Linked DNA regions of Homo sapiens. The protein of the gene in region 3 interacts with the protein of the main gene of each other region in a biochemical or structural test. Each region holds a gene or a part of one and is shown on either strand. Other genes may lie near its edges. The genes, in order: MAPK9, MAP2K7 and DUSP19.

The links.
Region 1: of the proteins of DUSP19 (region 3) and MAPK9, one has a biochemical effect on the other in vitro, tested with the Homo sapiens proteins (one study listed by BioGRID).
Region 2: the proteins of DUSP19 (region 3) and MAP2K7 form a complex in vitro, tested with the Homo sapiens proteins (one study listed by BioGRID).

The regions. Positions count from the first base shown.
Region 1 is NC_000005.10:180,240,031-180,243,679, reverse strand, and holds part of MAPK9 (mitogen-activated protein kinase 9), read left to right. Parts: intron 1-924; coding exon 925-1,107; intron 1,108-2,524; coding exon 2,525-2,649; intron 2,650-3,649. UniProt on the Homo sapiens protein: Serine/threonine-protein kinase involved in various processes such as cell proliferation, differentiation, migration, transformation and programmed cell death.
Region 2 is NC_000019.10:7,910,261-7,913,909, reverse strand, and holds part of MAP2K7 (dual specificity mitogen-activated protein kinase kinase 7), read right to left. Parts: coding exon 3,537-3,649; intron 3,458-3,536; coding exon 3,338-3,457; intron 3,215-3,337; coding exon 3,107-3,214; intron 2,931-3,106; coding exon 2,751-2,930; intron 2,661-2,750; coding exon 2,580-2,660; intron 2,496-2,579; coding exon of another isoform or gene 2,475-2,495; coding exon 2,332-2,474; intron 1,762-2,331; coding exon 1,716-1,761; intron 1,614-1,715; coding exon 1,479-1,613; 3' UTR 1-1,478. UniProt on the Homo sapiens protein: Dual specificity protein kinase which acts as an essential component of the MAP kinase signal transduction pathway. Essential component of the stress-activated protein kinase/c-Jun N-terminal kinase (SAP/JNK) signaling pathway.
Region 3 is NC_000002.12:183,085,178-183,088,826, forward strand, and holds part of DUSP19 (dual specificity protein phosphatase 19), read left to right. Parts: intron 1-1,862; coding exon 1,863-2,015; intron 2,016-3,649.

The DNA.
Region 1 (3,649 bases), on a different chromosome or scaffold from region 3:
TAACATTTTGGAAGAACTGAGTTCATGTACCAGTTCCCTAGGTTATTTCATGGTGATGTAAGTTCATTTTTCTAAGACATGCCTCAGTGAGCACTTTTTTAAGCTGCTGTTGATGCTATTTTTTTCTCACTTGCATTCTCTTGTATAGCGAGTACAGTTTCAGTGTCACTTTCCCACATGTAATCCTAATTATCCCAAGCCTAACAAGCACCCTGTGGAATAGGCAAAGCTGGTAATGTCTGCATTGAACAAATAAGGAAACAGACCCCAAGGAAGCCTGACTTTCCTGACACACTGAGTGTTTAATGCAGAGTTGAGTCTGAAACCCAGGTCACGCACTTTGAAAGGAAATAAAATGCATTACCTAGGGATCGCAGTGATGGTTGGGAAGAGTCAGTTCCAAGTAAAATAGAGCATCATTTGAAAGCTGTCGCTGGGCTCAGTCTAAGCCCAGTTGCTTGGTTCCCAGCTGTAAACTGAGGAGGTCAGATAGGTCTCTCCACAGGTCCCTTGAGATCCTCTGTTCTTTAGAGAGCTGTGAATGAATCTAAGGTAGCATTAGTATGAAAACTGATTTCAATTTGCTTATGTAATGTTTATCTAATTTCGTGTTTAATCATTTTTGCTATAGGTATTCTTAGTTATAAGATAAACTTTATTTTGAACTAGAGTGGGAAGGTGTGTAGACTTCATTGTGTTGATTTAATAAACTGTGATCATAGTTTATGAAGATGCAGAGTGTGAGAGTTTTAAAAAATAGTGTAACTTGGAAACCCAAACCTTATTTGAATATTATTTCAAAATTCCGCTGCTGATCCAGTGGGGTGGCCTAGTCGATAGGTTTAAATATTATTCAAGTGATGCTGCCGCATGTACTGTGAATACAAGGTACTTCAGTTGTATTTTCCTCAAGAAACTCCTTAGATATTGATCAGTGGAATAAAGTTATTGAGCAGCTGGGAACACCATCAGCAGAGTTCATGAAGAAACTTCAGCCAACTGTGAGGAATTATGTCGAAAACAGACCAAAGTATCCTGGAATCAAATTTGAAGAACTCTTTCCAGATTGGATATTCCCATCAGAATCTGAGCGAGACAAAATAAAAAGTAAGATATCCTTTTTTTCTTATACTTGTGTTTTGTAATTCAGGTGGTGCTTTCACTCTTTCATGTTTGTATTCTAAAAACCTGTGTTTTGGGAGAGAAAGTCATTTTAGGCCTGAAGTCTGAGGTACGAAGGCACTGAGGAGAGAAAGCTTAAAGGTCTAGAAGCTTTATCCTCTATAAGACGGCTTAATTGAAGCCTTTGGCCAAAATAAAAATAATCAAATCAGTCTGAAAGAATCTTATGTTACAGTTACAGCAACTGGAATTCAAAAAGTTTTCAGGTAAGAAGAACACTTAATGCAGATTCTAGAGTCAGAAGCGATGTGACAGTTGTTCGATGAAAAAGGTCCTTCCTCCCCACCTTCTCCTGCACCCTTTACTACAGTGTGATTGTTTAAGGAAAAAGAAAAGATTTGATTCTGTCCGCATGAAGGTAAACTGTGCCTTAATCAGAAAAGCCCCAGTCTTTGCTTATTCAGGTTGTGAACTTTAATTGACAAAACCTAGGTGAGCCTTATATTTAACTAAGTTATTGAACTTGTTTTTCTTTTTCCTAAATACCAATCTGTAGATTAAAAAAAAAAGTGTAAGTTGCCAGCACTGTATACAGCTAGGCCAGCCAGAAGCATCTGTGAGTGTTTTATCCTGTGGGAATGTGAGATTGTTGTGTGGTTTGAAAAGTCTGTTCTAATTTCATTTCGATGTGACTTAGAGAAAAATACTCCCCCGTGCCTCATGCCCACACTCTGGGCAGTGCCACCCGCAGCTCGGCAATTGCCACCTTCCTTGCTGTGGTTTCCCAGCCTTGGGCCCTGCCCAGACATTGGTCTGAGGCTGCCTGGTGCTCTTCCCCACCACCCTGGGAGCCCAGGTTTCTCTTCCCCTTGCAGATCCAGAGGCGTAAAACTACATTTGGAAACCTGGTTTGTCATGAAAGTGGACATTTGACTTTTTCTTAAAAATGTTTGGGTTATGGCTGGGTGCGGCGGCTCACGCCTGTAATCCCAGCACTTTGGGAGGCTGAGGCAGGCGGATCACGAGGTCAAGAGATCGAGACCATCCTGCCTAACACAGTGAAACCCTGTCTCTACTAAAAAAATACAAAAAATTATCCGGGCATGGTGGCAGACGCCTGTAGTCCCAGCTGCTTGGGAGGCTGAGGTAGGAGAATGGCGTGAACCCGGGAGGTGGAACTTGCAGTGAGCCAAGATTGCGCCACTGCATTGGGCGACAGAGCGAGACTCCGTCTCCGAAAAAAAAAAAAAAAATTTTGGGTTATATTCATCTTGAACCTATCAAACATTTCTCAAAATTAATATATCTTTGTTCTATCTGTGTTGTCATATTTAGTTCTTTATTGTATGATTCTGTTTGTTTCATATTAACAGCATTAATTTAATATTTGTTGTCACCCTAGCAAGTCAAGCCAGAGATCTGTTATCAAAAATGTTAGTGATTGATCCTGACAAGCGGATCTCTGTAGACGAAGCTCTGCGTCACCCATACATCACTGTTTGGTATGACCCCGCCGAAGCAGAAGCCGTGAGTATCTGTTTTGAAAAGATTTATATAGAGAGGCCAGGCTTATATTTCCTTGGATCTTGTCTGTCCGTCCAGAGTGGCTACATATGGGTAGCAAGTTCTCCATTTGGGGGCTCCCAGTTACAGAAAGGCCAAGTGTTGTCTGAGACCTGGGTCGCTTGCTCTTTTGCTGCTGGAGCCCCAGCTCAGAGTACCTCGGGAATGAACTTCCGCTTTGGTGCTACCAGTCTCCATTTTGCAAATGCTGCTGTGAGCTCATAGTTTATTAAGCATCTATTCTGTGCCATTGGCTTTGGTTACATCCTCTTGTTTAGGCCACTTAACCAGAGAGGCTGAGCAACTTGCTGAAAAATCACACGTCTGTTTATCCTTCCCTAAAGGCATTGTAGCTCCTGGTTCCCCCGCTGGAGGAGCTCCACTCTGAGTTTGGTGCTCACGTGCGTGTTTCTGTGTCAGCACTGGTGTGAGTGAGCTTTAGCTGTGAGGGAAATCACTGCGTAGTGGCAGGCTTCCTTCATGCCATGAGTGAAATACATGTTTATGTCATGGCCTGTGGTTTTGCCATCAGTTTAAACATTGTTTTATATAAAAAGAATCCAATTTATAAGCAGACTTTTATAACAGTCCATTTATGAGTTGGACATTGGATTTGGGAGTTCTCCCATGAAGAAAATGTAAAATTTGTTCTAAGAAACAACAGTACCTTCCATAGCTGCCAGCACAGTGCCTTGTCCATAATGGGTCTCTGGGAAACAGCCTGTGATGATGAGTTTCTAATGACATCTGGGCAGATGTCTGCGTTTTGAGGTCAGGTGATTATTAAGAGGAACATAATAACTCTTCTTTGGTTAACTTTTTCATAATTATTTTGATTCTAAAGTTGATATAATATCACATGACAAATCTTTATTAAACCACGTGTTGAATTAAACTAAATCCATATCATAAATAGACTAGAAGTCTTCCAAGCAATTTTACCTTTTTTAGTGCCTCATTTTTT
Region 2 (3,649 bases), on a different chromosome or scaffold from region 3:
TGATAATAACAAGAGTCAACAGGCTAAGTGAGAGGAGAGGGATGCTACGCCTACGCTGCCCCCACCACGGCCAGCCGGCTTCTGCGCCTTTGGTGTTGGATTTTCTTTGTGATTTTACGGGGTTTTGTGTTTTTTTTTTCTTGTTTTTTGTTTTGTTATTTTTTCTTGTCCACTTGATTTGCATGCAACACCCACAAAAAGGAAACACACCCCCTCCTGCTCTGGCCACCCCAGCAGGCTCCGGGGGGCACCTGGCCTGGGTCCCCGGTGCACTCACCCGGTCCTTCCCAGTCCTGGACCTCAACGTGGACTGGGCCAGGTGTGGGTGAGTGGAGGGACGGCCAGGGGCACGATGGGAGTGACCACCTCGCACCCCCACCCTCAGCCCGGCCCCCACCCCTGCTGGAGCTTGTCACACGTCCTCAAACCCCCACATCCACTCCCTCTGCCCTCCATCCCTGACTCCCTCCGGACCCCTCCCTTGGCCCCGCTCCGTCACCGATTCCCTCCGGTCACCTGCTCTGCACCATGCCCCAAGACCACCTTCCCTGAAGGCCATCCTGTGCGGCCAGGGCCCCGCAGACCCCTCCACATCCCCTGAGGTCTTCAACTCACCCCAAGCTGTGGCCCCCGGAGACCCCAGAGCAGCAGCCCCAGCCCAGCTCCCCAGTGCCCGAGGGCGGTTGGGGCCCCACCACAAGCAGCTAATCGTGACTTTGGTAAAAGTTTCTGAAGGTACCGACAACCCCACGAGAACAAGCTCTCCTCCGCCCCCACCCCAAACACCCCACCAAGTACAATAAAATACAATAAACTCCAAAAAGGACCCCCTGAGATCAAAGAGAGAGAGAGAGAGAGAGAGAGAGCGCGAGCGCGCAGCCCCGTCCAGCCGCAGTGGCAATGCCCACACTGCCTGGCTGGGGGCCACTGACTCATTGCGCCATGGGAGACCTATGCAGACCCAGGGGACCCGTCAGGAGGTGGCTGGGCCCAGGCTCAGGCCAGAAGAGAGACAGAGGCAGGGAGGGTGACGGGAGAGCCAGACAAGGACAGAGAGGTAGAGCAGGGGACAGAGGGCGACGGAAGAGGAACGGGCGCGTGGGAGTGGCGAAGGACACAGCACGCTGGGAGCGTGCATGGTGGCTGCGGGACTCCAGGGCTCTCTCCTGGCCCCTGGGGGCCGCCCCGGCCCAGAGGCTGCGGCTGAATGAACAGCGACTCTGATCGCGGCCTGCTGTCTTCCGTTCACAGTGTCTGTCGGGGGACGCACACGGCCGGCTGACCCCGGGGTGGGAAGGGCGGGGGCTTGGTAGGCCCGGGGCGGGGGGGGTGGGTGGGCACCCCCCACTCTCTGTCCTCAGTCCTAGGTGGCCGTCCAGGTCCCAGGTCTCCCCTGGCAGGCAGCTGGGTGGCCAAGTGGGGAGGGGGGCCTGTGGCCATGCCCCTGGCCCCCTGTGGGGCTGGCCGCCGCCAAGCAGCTACCTGAAGAAGGGCAGGTGGGGCTGGCTCAGGACGCCGCTAGTCCGCGGTGACTCAGTCTTCGCCATGACATCCTTGAACCAGGACGCCACGTCCACCTCCAGCGTCTCGTAGCGCTTGATGAAGCTGTGTTCCTGTGGGCCCGAGGGGGTGGGGCTTAGGAGGAGACGGTCTTCCCTCCTGGCCTCGCGCCTCCGCAGGGACAGGACGGGGACTGGGAGGGCTCAGGTACTCACAAGTAGCTTATTATACTTTGGTCTCTTCCTGTGATCTTTAGTAAGGCTAGAGCAAGAGAAGGGAAGACAGATGTGAGAACGAGGGAGGAGGGGATGCCGGCCCCACCCCTGTGCTCAGGCCCTCCCCAAGGGGCCAGGGGTCCCCAAGATGTGTGTGGGGGAAGGAGCTGTGGATGTCCTCAGGACCCCGGCTGACAGCGGGGAGCAACTGTGAGTCCCGGAGCCTCCTGGCCTAGGGCCAGGTGGCAAGGGCCTGGCTTGGGGGGCCAGAGCTGGCTGAGGTCCCCCAGAAAGGTGGGTGGGGCTCCCCTGAGAGAATCGAACATGGCCCTCCTGAACTTGTAGCTGTGCTTGTTGCAGAAGCGTGCTCACAATCTCCAACAGCCACCCCGCCAAATGCCACAGGGCTGGCTGTCCCCTCAGGCTAGGTCCAAACCCAGCTCATGGCTCCCTGGGCACCAGCTCCAGCTCCTGTGGCAGCCGCCAGCCAGGAGCCCGCCCACAGTCGCATCCGCCCATCCCAGGGTGCGGCCTCCATTCCCCTCCTGCCATTGCCTCCCCAGCTGCCCAGAGCAGCGGGCTGTCCCTGACCTCCCAAGTGGAGGGAGGTTCTCACCAGTCTTTGACGAAGGACTGGAAGTCCCCCGAGAAGCCCATGTGTCCGGGCAGAAGCGGGGGCTCTTCCTGTAGGACTTTGGTGAGGACCTCAAAGTCCGTCTTGCAGTTCTTGTAGGGAAACTGTCCTGTTGCCAGCTCCACCTGGGAGGGAGACGGGCAGGGCTGGACAGGTTTATGTTCTCCTCCCTCCGAGTCCCCCAGAAGCCCTCACTCCTGGCTGGAGAACAGGGGAGGGCCCCAACTCACCAACGAGATGCCCAGGCTCCATACGTCGGCCCGGATGTCATAGTCCGGCTTGGTGGGGTCTGGGGGGTCAATGCGCTCGGGCTGCAGGGGGGGGAGGAGAAGACGTATCTCCAAGGCTGGGGCCGGCCTCCCAGCCCCCACCCCCTCCCCCGCTGGGGGGCCCCCACTCACTGCCATGTAGGCGGCACAGCCGGCGCTCCGCGTCTTGGCTTTGGAGTCCACCAGGCGGCCGCTGATGCCGAAGTCGCAGAGCTTGATCTGGCCCCGCTCGTCCAGCAGGATGTTGGAGGGCTTGACGTCGCGGTGGATGACACCGTGCTTCTCCTTCAGGTAGTACAGCGCCTTCACAATCTGCAGGCACGCAGAGGGGGGTGCATGTGGCAGGGGGCACAGACCCAAGGCCACCTGCCCGGTGCACGCCCCACCTGGCCACTCACCGCCACTGTCATCTTGCCCAGTGCACGCCCCGCCTGGTCACTCACCGCCTCTGTCATCCTGCCCAGTGCAAGCCCCGCCTGGTCACTCACCGCCACTGTCATCTTGCCCAGAATGCGCTCGGGGATGGGGCCCTGCATCCGCTTCTTGAGCTTCTCAGCGCAGGTGCCCATGAGCTCCATGGCGATGAAGACGTCCGTCTGCAGGGAGAGGGGCACCCGGGGGAGCTGTGTCTTCCGGCCCACCCCCCAGAGGCTCTGCTCCCTAGGAAGGGGCAGGGGTGAGGGAGGAGGAGACGCTGCAGGGCGCGGCCAGGTACTCACGTTGGTGATGAACGTCCCAAAGCACTGCACGATGTAGGGGCAGTCGTGGCTCTTCAGCACCACATCCAGGTCCATGAGGATGCGCTTGTTCTCCTCCTTGTTCCCGGAGCGCCGCATTTGCTGCACAGGCAGGGACAGGAGGGAGCCTCAGCACCGGCCTGGGGTGTGGGGCGCAGCCGGGGTAGCCGCCAAGGCTCACCTTAACGGCAATGACGTGGCCGGTCTTCCGGAAGCGCATCTTCCACACCTGGCCGCAGGTGCCGCTGCCCATCTCGCCCAAGTTCTCCAGGTCGTTGATTTCTGCCTGGTAGC
Region 3 (3,649 bases):
TACTGAAACCATTAGAATAGATGAAGCTGCCTGGGGAAAAGTGTAAAGTAAGAGAGAAGAGGGCCTATGACAGAATCTTATCACAGAACTGATAAATTGAGGAATATCACCCTATATGGAATGATCAAACAAAGAAGAGTCCGCAGTGGGAAAGGAGGATCTAAAAGAGGCCCAAAGAAGGTAAAACAAAAAGATGGTGTCATGGAAACTAAAGAGAATAGTGTTTTAAGGAGGAGAGAGTCAGCAATGTCAGATGCTGTAAAAGTTTAAGTACGATTAGGACTAAATTATATCCATGGGACTTGGTGACAGAGAGGTTGTTAGTGCGTTTGGTGGAAACAGTTTCATTTGAATTGGAGGCCAAAGCCATATTGCAAAAGATTGAGAAGTGAGGAAGTGATGGCAAAGGGAAAAAAAAAAAGAGAGAGAGGAGCCATAGGTGAGGAGGGGGAGGGGAGAGCTTTGAGCATGTTTTAAGGCTGATGGTAGAAGAAGGAATTGAAGATACAGAAAAGCAAGAATTATGACTATAGGGAGATGCCAAGAAAGTAGGAAGCACTGTGACTCCAAGCACAGGTTCTGGAATGAGCCTTATCGAAGATGCACGAGCACATCCTTCATTGTAATCAGAAGGCAGAGGGGAAGTACAGATGTGGACAAGGTTGTTAGGTTTTTTTTTTTTTTTTTTTTTTTTTTTTTTTTTTTTGAGGCAGAGTCTCGCTCATTTGCTCAGGCTGGAGTGCAGTGGCATGATCGTGGCTCACTGCAACCTTTACCTCCTGGGTTCAAGTGATTCTCAGCCTTTGGATTATCTTAATGGACTGTCTGCCTGGCTTTCTTCCACATGGTTGGTGGACTCTAGGAAAAGGGGCTCAAATACATAGATGCAAGAGGAGGAGGTTGCTCAAGTGTACCATCTGAAAGAAAATATTTTACAACCACACCTCCCCTTACTTTTCAGCCAGATTGGTTCATCAGAATCTCTGGGTATGAGACCCTGTGTTATTGATAGTTTTTAAGAGTTCATCAGGTGACTCTAATGTGCAGTCATCCTGGAGAACCATTTTATAAAGTAAAGAATATGAAGGAAAATAGGGAAATAATTCTTGAAAGGGAAGTTGTATACCACTGATACACTTCTCCTATTTAAGTTTTTATATGGATATTCACAGATTAATTCAACAAAGATTTTAAGCATTTTCTGCTAAACTCACTGCTCATTCGCTTATAACACTAAGTTAAACATGGTCCCTACCCTCATGGAGTTTCTAGTGCAGTGAAAGAGAAAAACAATCTCTAAATGGCATGAGCTATAATAGGGCAAGTCCAGGGCTATGAAAATATATAGGCCAGGTGTGGTGGCTTATACCTGTAATGCCAGCACTGTGGGAGGCGGAAGTGGGAGCATCACTTGAGGCCAGGAGTTCGAGACCAGCCTGGGCAAAAAAAGTGAGACCCGCCCCCCTCTTCTCTGAAAAAAAAAAAAAAAAAAAAAATTAGCTGGGTGTGGTGGTACACGCCTGTAGTCCCAGCTACTTGGGAGGCTGAGGCAGGAGGATCACCTGAGCCTAGGAGTTCAAGATTGCAGTGGCCTATGATTGCATCATTGCACTCCAGCCTGGGTGACAGAAAGAGACCCTGTCTCTGCATGATGATAATAATAAGTTAAAAGAGAGAGAGAGAGAGAGAAAACATATAGTAGAAGGAGCACTTCTGGTGTGGGATTGAAGCAGTATTATCATTCAAGTGAGTCGCATTTAAATTTTTTACCTTTCTTGTTATAGATATCAACACCCCAGTCTCTTTTTAGGTAACCTAATTCATGGGATTTAAAACAATCATCTTTTTTCTTTCTCTTTAAGGTGACTCATATTCTTAATGTTGCATATGGAGTTGAAAATGCTTTCCTCAGTGACTTTACATATAAGAGCATTTCTATATTGGATCTGCCTGAAACCAACATCCTGTCTTATTTTCCAGAATGTTTTGAATTTATTGAAGAAGCAAAAAGAAAAGTGAGTTTTGTTTTGATCCATAGTTCTGCAGAAGCAGAAATTTGAAAGTGTGGATCCATTACCCAATCTTTATTATTTTTATAATGAATCTCTAAAAAACAATTATGAAATTTCCCTTCTAACAATATTTCATTATTTCCTACAATTATTTGGTTAATTGCTCTTTTTTCAATGAGATGTTTAGTTTCAACATTAATTCAGACTATAAAACAGAGACTGCTCTAGACTTGTTAGTGTATTTATGATGATTAATATGCATTTGATTTTAATGAATGAGATAGTTATTGTGAAACTATGCATTTTTAGCAGTAAAATTTTAAGGCACTCTAAGGACTAAATGTGTATTGCTTTACTTAGATTGTATGAAAATGCTGATCAGAAACTGTCTGTTGGTTTTCTGAAGTTAGAAGACCAATAGCCAATGTCATATAGTACTTCAGGCTTGTTATTGAAGTCAACATTCTGACAGGCAAAGTTTCTAGGTTGGCTGTTATCAACAATTATTCCTTGAAATGTCATCATTTTTAGTCAGCAAATAATTCTTACAGACTTTATGTAAGATACGTAGATGGGAAAGTAGAAGCATTTACAGAGAGAAATAACTCTTCTGGAACACCTAACAATGACAGGATTACAATCAGGTTTAATTGAACTCTGGCCTACCTTCTCTCCCTTTATCTTTTCTCCTTCCCATTTTCTCTTCCTCTCTCCCTTCTTTCCTTTCATTTAGTAATATTTATTGAATGCCTTAGGTGCCCAGCACTGTTCTACGTGCCTTCCTACTAGACTACCCAGAAAATATAAAACTATTCAATTCTACTGTTCATCAACTTTACTTAATAGCAGATACAGTCATGCACTGCATAATGATGTTTGGACTGCATATATGATGGTGGTTCCATAAGATTATAATAATGTATTTTTACCATACCTTTTCTATGTTTATGTATGTTTAGATACACAAATACATACCATTGTGTTACTGTTGCCTACAAGTCAGTACAGTAACATCTGAACAGGTTTGTAGTCTTGGAGCAATAGGCCATACCATTCTAGGTTTGTGTGAGTGCACTCTGTGATGTTTACACCACGAAGAAACTGCCTAACAACACATTTCTCAGAATGCATCACCATTGTTAAATGATGCACGACTGTATTTGGATGGAAGCAAAGGAAGAGGTTTTTTTTGTTTTTTGTTTTTTGTGTTTTTTTTTTTTGTTTTTTTTTTTTTTGAGATGCAGTCTCACTCTGTCGCCAGGCTGGAGTGCAGTAGTGTGATCTCGGTGCACTGTAACCTCCGGCTCACTGCAACCTCCGCCTCTCGGGTTCAAGTGATTCTCCTGCCTCAGCCTCCCAGGTAGTTGGGACTATAGGAGCACACTGCCACACCCGGGTAATTTTTTGTATTTTAGTAGAGACAGGGTTTCACCGTGTTGCCCAGGCTGGTCTTGAACTCCTGAGCTCAGGCAGACCACCTGCCTCAGCCTCCCAAAGTGCTAGGATTACAGGCATGAGCCACTGCACCTGGCCAAGGGAGAGGTTTTTTAATTCAAAGCCTAATATTGGCCATTCTGTTTTCTTGTTAAAAAATTTACAGGCTCTGGATTGTAACATTCCAGTGTGTGAGTTAATAG